Homo sapiens: one gene and its partner. The protein of the gene in region 2 purifies or fractionates together with the protein of the main gene of each other region. This does not show direct contact. Each region holds a gene or a part of one and is shown on either strand. Other genes may lie near its edges.

The links.
Region 1: the proteins of POU2AF2 (region 2) and FBXO10 purify together in Homo sapiens (affinity purification with mass spectrometry; one large-scale study listed by BioGRID and IntAct). This does not show direct contact.

What each region holds. Positions count from the first base shown.
Region 1 is NC_000009.12:37,569,623-37,573,450, forward strand, and holds part of FBXO10 (F-box only protein 10), read right to left. Parts: intron 1-3,828. UniProt on the Homo sapiens protein: Substrate-recognition component of the SCF (SKP1-CUL1-F-box protein)-type E3 ubiquitin ligase complex. Mediates the ubiquitination and degradation of BCL2, an antiapoptotic protein, thereby playing a role in apoptosis by controlling the stability of BCL2.
Region 2 is NC_000011.10:111,259,000-111,262,827, reverse strand, and holds part of POU2AF2 (POU domain class 2-associating factor 2), read right to left. Parts: intron 1-3,828. UniProt on the Homo sapiens protein: Transcriptional coactivator of POU2F3. This complex drives the development of tuft cells, a rare chemosensory cells that coordinate immune and neural functions within mucosal epithelial tissues.

The DNA of each region.
Region 1 (3,828 bases), on a different chromosome or scaffold from region 2:
CTGACCATAAACAGAGCTCTAACAGAAGTATCAAGAAATTTCAAAGGATTAAAATTATACAGCTTCGAGCACAGTGGCTCACACCTGTAGTCCTTCCAGCTACCTGGGGAGACTGAAGCAGGAGGATTGCTTGAGCCAGGAGTTCAAGGCTGCAGTTAGCTATGATCACACCACTGTACTCCAATGTGGGAGACAGTGAGACTGTCTCAAAAACAAACAAACCAACCAACCAAAAACAGAACAAGCTCACTGACCACAGTCATAATTAGTCATAAATAAAGGATAATTAGAAAATGTTAGTATGTTTGGATATTACAAAACACATTTCTCGAATATAATATCTATTGGTTAAAGAAAAAGAATTACAATGGAAATTAGAATATTTTTAGAAATAAACAACAAAGAAGGCTGGGCGCAGTGGCTCATGCCTGTATCCCAGCATTTTGGGAGGCCAAGGCAGGTGGAACACCTGAGGTAAGGAGTTCGAGACCCGCCTGAGCAACATGGTAAAACCCTGTCTCTACTAAAATACAAAAACATTAGCTGGGCATGGTGGCGCATGCATGCAATCCCAGCTACTTGGGAGGCTGAGGAGGCAGGATAATCCCTTGAACCCGGGAGGTGGAGGTTGCAGTGAGCCGAGATTGTGCCATTGCACTCCAGCCTGGGCAACAAGAGTGAAAGTCTGTCTCGGAAAAAAAAAAGAAAAGAAATAAACAACAGAGATACCACATATCAAAACTTGTGAACTCCTGCTGAAACAGAATTTGGAAAAAAATGTATAACCTTAAATAGAGAGAATCAAAAAGATAAAAATTAATGAAACTAAACATCAATTTCAAGAAGTCAGAAAAAGAACAAAATAAATCCAAGGAAAATAGAAGAGAAAAATAAAGAACAGAGCAGAACTTATGAAACAGAAAACAAATTTATTATGAAGACTATCACTGATGATAAGAGCAGGTTCTCTGAAAAGAACCTCTACTAAAACCAAAGAAGAAGGAAAAAAAAGCATTAAAATGAAATCAGAATGAAAGAGGGGATATCTCTATAGATGCTGTACACCAAATGATAAGAAAATATTATAAACGGCCAGGTGCGGTGGCTCACGCCTGTAATCCCAGCACTTTGGGAGGCTGAGGCAGGTGAATCACGAGGTCAAGAGATGGAGACCATCCAGACCAACGTGGTGAAACTCCGTCTCTACTAAAAATACAAAAAATTAGCTGGGCGTGGTGGCACGTGCCTGTAGTCCCAGCTACTCAGGAGGCTGAGGCAGGAGAATCGCTTGAAACCGGAAGGCGGAGGTTGCAGTGAGCTGAGATTGCGCCACTGCAGTCCAGCCTGGCGACAGGGCAAGACTCCGTCTCAAAAAAAAAAAAAAAAATTATAAACAACTTTATATAAGTAAATATGAAGGGATAAACTCCTAGGAAAATATTACTTAGTTAAGAAATTATAAAAACAAAATCACCCTAGAACCATTAAAGACATTGAGTCTGTGGTCAAAAATAAGATTGCAAAGAAAACACACCTGCGAGCCCAGGTGGCTTCATCACCAAGTTCTATCATACATTCAAGGGACAAAGAAGGGGAAACTAAAATGGATGGTGGAAGAGGATGATATGGGTATTTGTTAGATTTCTGGACCAACTGCAGCAGCAAGGGTTGTAATTTGTCTCACTAATCTTCCTCTTATAAGTTTTCCCAGGATTTGTGACTAACCAGAATCCTGGAGAAGCTGTACCTGGATACAGTGAACTTAATATAAGAAGCAAGCCTATCTGTATGGTACAAGAAGTGGACTGTGGAGAATACTACTGGTTCCATCCAGATCATCTTTACTGGTTAGCACACCTGTCACTGAGATGTGGTGTCAGCTGAGAACAACTCACAGATGTCCCTTTCTCCAGAAAACTGCAACTGCCCCCTCACCAGGCTGTGCCTCTCCTCCCCCAATCCAGCTTTCCTCATACTCCTCTTCCTGAGGGCTTCTCCCACAGTCTCACTTGAACAAGAATCTCTATTTTATGCCCTGCTTCTACAGAATGGGATCGAAGATATCACCATTTAAGAGGGTGAAAAGAGAGCCATATATATATATATATATATATATATATATATATTTCCTTATTGAAAAATCAATTTAAAAAATTTAAAAATGGCAAGAGACATGAATAGACAGTTCACAAAAGAGGCAATCCAATTAACCAACAAAAAACTGCTCAAGGGCTGGGCATGGTAGCTCACACCTGTAATCCCAGCACTTGGGGAGGCTGACATGGGAGAATAGTTTGAGTCCAGGAGTTTGAGACCAGCCTGGAAAATATGGCAAGACCTGGTCTCTACAAAAAAAAATAAAATAATTATCTGGCTGTCCCAGCTGCTCAGGGGGCTGAGGTGGGAGAGATCTCTTGAGCCTAGGAGGTTGAGGCTACAGTAAGCCATGATCACGCCACTGCAATCCAGCCTGGGTGACAAAGCAAGACCCTGTTTCCAAAAAAAAGAAAAAAGAAAAAAGTGCTCAACCTCAAGAGTAACCAAGGAGAGCAAGTTAAAACCACAAGAAATATCAAGACACACACATGAAAATAGTTAAAATATTAAAACCAATAAAAGCAACTATTTGCCAGGATATGAAGCAACTGGAACTCTCATATACTCCTGGTAGGAAAGTAAACTGTTCGACACTATCTAGTAAAGCAATTGTACTCTAACATATATAACCTAAAGAAACTTGTTCAAATACATCAGAAAATATCTAAGGATGTACTTGGCAGTCAGAAACTATAAGCAACTCAAGTATCCATCAACCACAGGATGAATACATCTATTGTGACACAGCCATACCATGAAACACTGTTGGCAACGAAAATAAGTGAGGCCGCCACGTGGATGCATCTCACAAACAAGTTGAGCAAAAGAAGCAAAACACAAAATGCAAAAGTATGATTCTATATGTATGAAATTAAAAAACTTAAAACTATATTGTTTAGGGATATATACATAGGTGATATAATTACAAAGAAAAGCAAAAAAATGATTATCACAAGATGATTTCTTCTAGGGGAGGAAATTATGATTTGGAAGCAGGTACTGAGTATTGGCAATGTTCCAGTTCTTGACATGTTGGTGATTACGTGTGTATTTCCTTTAGAGTTATTTGCTAAACTATATATTGTGTTTTTTACCATGCATATTTGCTGTATTTCATATTCAAAAAGTTTAAAACAAATAAATGAAATAAATATACTGATTATTGTTTCTTAGAAAAATTGAGAAAACTAAAATCCTTTATTTTTAAATTAAAACCTTGCCTGCAAAATCCCTAACAGGGTACATGCCAAGTAAATTTTCCAGAATGCCTAAATCTGTGTGGCTCAGGGTGACCTGACGACCCCTCTTTACATATGGAAAAGTAAGGTGAGTAGGCACCCAAAGTCCTGGGGTAGCTATCTTGTTGAAGGCTGTCATTCCTGAGAATCATCGGTAGGCAGAACCCTGGAGAGTATGTGGAACCAATTTGCCAAAGGGATTTGGGTTAAGGTTAAGAAGAGAAGGGACTGAGCCCACAAACTCTGATAAGAAGTTTGAAAACAGAGACATCTCTTGGGTGGTCTAGATGACCATGACCAAGGTTGCTAGCAGGAAGGGCCCCAAATGCCCTAAAAGAGAACTCTCCAGGACACCAGGGGAACCCAGCCTGGTGAAAAGCTCAACAAAAGCCCAGAGTGAGGTGCTTTGGGGAGAATGGCTGAGCACGCAAGCATAAATGAAACAAGCTCTAACCTTGGAAAACCAAGCATGGAATCATGCTGGCAGAGATTT
Region 2 (3,828 bases):
GTTGCAAACATCAGTTATACACAGTAAAATTTATCTGAAAAAAATAAGCACAGAAACTAGAGAAATCTTAGACGCATGGCCCAACTCTCTGCTTTTATGGACAGGGACACTGAGGCTCAGAGAAGAGAAGGGAATTACCCAAGACCATTTGTAGCCAGAAGGAGGGGTTCAAACAGACGAAAGAAGGAGCAGCTTCTCTTTTGGTGGAGGAGAGATGTGTTACCCAAAGTTTCATGGAAATCAAAGAAACTTTGAGATGATAGAATATGCAGCTTCCAATTGCATGTATTTTTTCCTCTTAATACTTCACAAGAAATCCAAATGCAAATCACAGATCTAGATGTCATGATGTTTACACTTGTGGTAACTGAATTGTGCACAATTGGTATAGCAAAGCAGCAGCTGAATGTGTAACTAAACAAACGTCCAACTAGCAGTCTTGCTGGAAGGACAGGCGGTTTTAGGGACTAAGATAGACAATGCACATCTGTTCTACAGTTAAAGTCTGCCCAACTTTATGGCAATTGCTCTATGTCATAAACACACCGAATGGTGCCTATTCACCTTCTGTTCCCCCAAAATTTCCCATCAAATACGTACTATTGTCATACTTCTATCCGTTGCTTGTAATATTAACCCTCCAAAATAATTAGGAAAGATTATTAACCAAGAAACCCAGCTGACAATATTGCCTTATCCTGTATGCCCTTGATGTAGAGATTTTAGCAGTGAAATAATTTAAATGTAAGAATTTAGGATAATGTACAGAAAGAAAATAACTGTAAGTAATACTGATTTGAAAAGCAAACACTTGAGATTGGCATGCAAGAATCACGCTGTGTGGAAATAGTTCACTTTTGGTCTCTATATGTAGAGCATGTAAAAATCAAGGCTGTTATTATCTAAATACATTTCTCACTTGGGATATTTCTCTTTAACATTTTACTCAATTCAGACCTTCTAAAAACAGAGCCAGAAATCTTCATTTATTTTTCCTTAGGTTTATGTAGGATATTAACTTGAAGGAATTTTCATGTCTATTTTCTTACTGTTCCTGGCTATAGCATTTTGATGAATGAGCCGAGCAAAAGAGCTGTTACTTTGTTCATAAATCAACAAATAAATTGAACATCAAATCCTGATTCCTAGGCTCAATCTTAGCTTCCCCTACACTACACGACACTTCCCCATCTCCCCAACAGTTTCAATTCCAAGCTGATTTCCTTTTCCTACACAGCAAGTTTTACATTTTTCCCCCCTCATGTCAGCTGATGTATATTCAACAATTTTAAATAAATCCATAAGATAGCTTAAGAAAAACTTGATTAAAAGGAACAATGGTCTGAAAATCACTCACCAACTTTCAAAACAAAACTGAAAAATTGTGACTATTAGGTTTATTGCCTTTTTTCTACATATAATAAAGAGGTTATTGAATTTTATGATGTTATTTGAAAATAATTCGATGTTTAGCTTTTATAGAACTCAATTGAAATAGTGTAGTTCAAAAAAAGCAGCAATCAGAACTTAATTATGTGTGTGTGTGTGTGTGTGTGTGTGTGTGTGTATTTGGTACTAGATGGTGGTGAACGGCTCACATTTATATATCTTGGTAGAAGATCTAGTAGTGTGGTAAAGAATAACAGAAAAATTCAAGAAAGAAAAAAGAAAAACCATTATTTAAAAATAGACATACATAGCAATAGTTGTGAAACCACAGAATTGTAGCTAAAATGTATAGAAGTGGTTTTAATTTCTAGTCTTTGGTAAAAGTCTCTTTTGATGCAAGGGATATTTTTTCTTGTTCCTACTGCAAAGATGTGAAAAACATTTCATGGTATCAAAAACAGATGTTCATGAGGGAAGCTGCGGTAAAGATGGATCAACAGAGTCTTGTGTAAATTTATCAGTGTCGTCACAAATAAAAGAGCAGCAATTTGGGCATCCAATAGATACTTCCTGAAGTATGCCTATCCGGCGGGGGACATAGTTTTCAGAATATGCAGAATATGTGAGTATTAGTTTTCTAGGATGGCTGTAACAAATTATCACAAACAGGGTGGGTTAAAACTAGCAACATTGATTCTCTCATAATTCTGGAGGCCAGAAGTCCAAAATCAAGGTGTTGGCAGGGCTGTGTGCCCTCCAGACTCTAGGGGTGAATTTGCCTTTGCTTTTTCAAGCTTCTGGTGGCTACTGGTAGATATTCCTTGACTGTGGCCTCATCACTCCAATCTCTGCTTAAGTGGTCACATTGCCTCCTCATCTTTTGTGTATCTTCTCCCCGGTGTGTGTGTTTCTCTCTCAAAACTCCCCCTTGTGAGGGAGGATACTTGTGGATACATGTGATTATACTGAGAACTCACCTAAATAATGCCAGGTAAGGGCCTCTTCTAAAGATACTTCACTTAACCACAAATTCTGCCGTATAAAGCAGAACTCACCGGTCCCAGGGATTTGGCATGGGATCTTTGGGGCTCCCATTTTTTTTTAACCTATTACAATGCATTTATGGTAAACCACATGGTAGGGCCTCTGACTGGTCATTACTCATGCTGTCAGCTGCAAATTTTGAGCATGTCTAATGAATGACTTCTCTAACTTAACTTACTCGATATATGAGAATCATTGTGTCCTAGTGCATTGGTATGAAAAAGGGGAGGTGGTCTCAGTATGAGCCATCAAATCAGAGCCCCACAGTGTCTCCCGTAACATGATGGTCCATGATTCTTTCTTATTGGATTGCGTTTGCAACAGGGACAGAAATAGGTCCTCAAGAGTCAATGACTAATGCATATGATATCCTTGAGATTTACAGATATTCTAGAGTAGTGGTTAAGAGGATGAAACATCAGTAGGTGGACAGTAAGGGCAATTCATGCAAATGTCTAAAGTCCAAATAACCGCATTTTGGGACTTTATGCATTTAATTATCTGAATTCAAAAAGTCAGTGAAGTGAGGATGAGCGTAAGATACTAGTGTTGAGATGCTGGGTAATATGATGGGGACAGGAAGTTAAAGATGAGTTCATATCATCTATGCACTTGATGCCTGAGAATAGCTACCATGGTTAGAACCGGTGCGTACTTTTTTTGTTCTAGAAGTTATCTCTACGTGGTATATTTCTTTTTAAAAAACCCGTTTGTTTGCTTGTATCAGCGATTATTCTATTCTAGTCCCCTTTGGCCATTCCCTTTAAATATGGAATGTGGGCTGGGCACGGTGGCTCACGCCTGTAATCCCAGCACTTTGGGGGGCCGAGGTGGGTGGATTACCTGAGGTCAGGAGTTCAAGACCAGTCTGGCCAACATGGTGAAACCCCGTCTCTACTAAAAATACAAAAATTAGCCAGGCATGGTGGCACACACCTGTAATCCCAGCTAATCGGGAGGCCGAGGCAGGAGAATTGCTTGAGCCCGGGAGGCAGAGGTTGCAGTGAGCCGAGATTGTGCCACTGCACTCCAGCCTGGCCGACAGAACCAGATTCTGTCTCAGACAAAAAAAAAAAAAAAAAAAAGGAATGTGGAATTAGGAGTCATCTGCTACTTGTAAACTGTGCAGCTTTGAAATAATTACTTCGCTTCTCTTGTTCTCAATGCACTCATCTGTAAACTGGGAAACTGTAAATATCAATCTCGGGGTTAGTGTGTCTATCAAATGAAACAACACATGAGAAAGTGCCCTTTAAACTGTCCTTACATACATGTTATTATAGTCTTCATATTACATGTCTATGCTGCCTGGTCTTTTGTCTTCAGTTTCAGTCTAGGGCTTGGTTGCTAAGTTCTTGTATTTTTCAAATGTGTAAGTATTTTTTCTTTTCACCA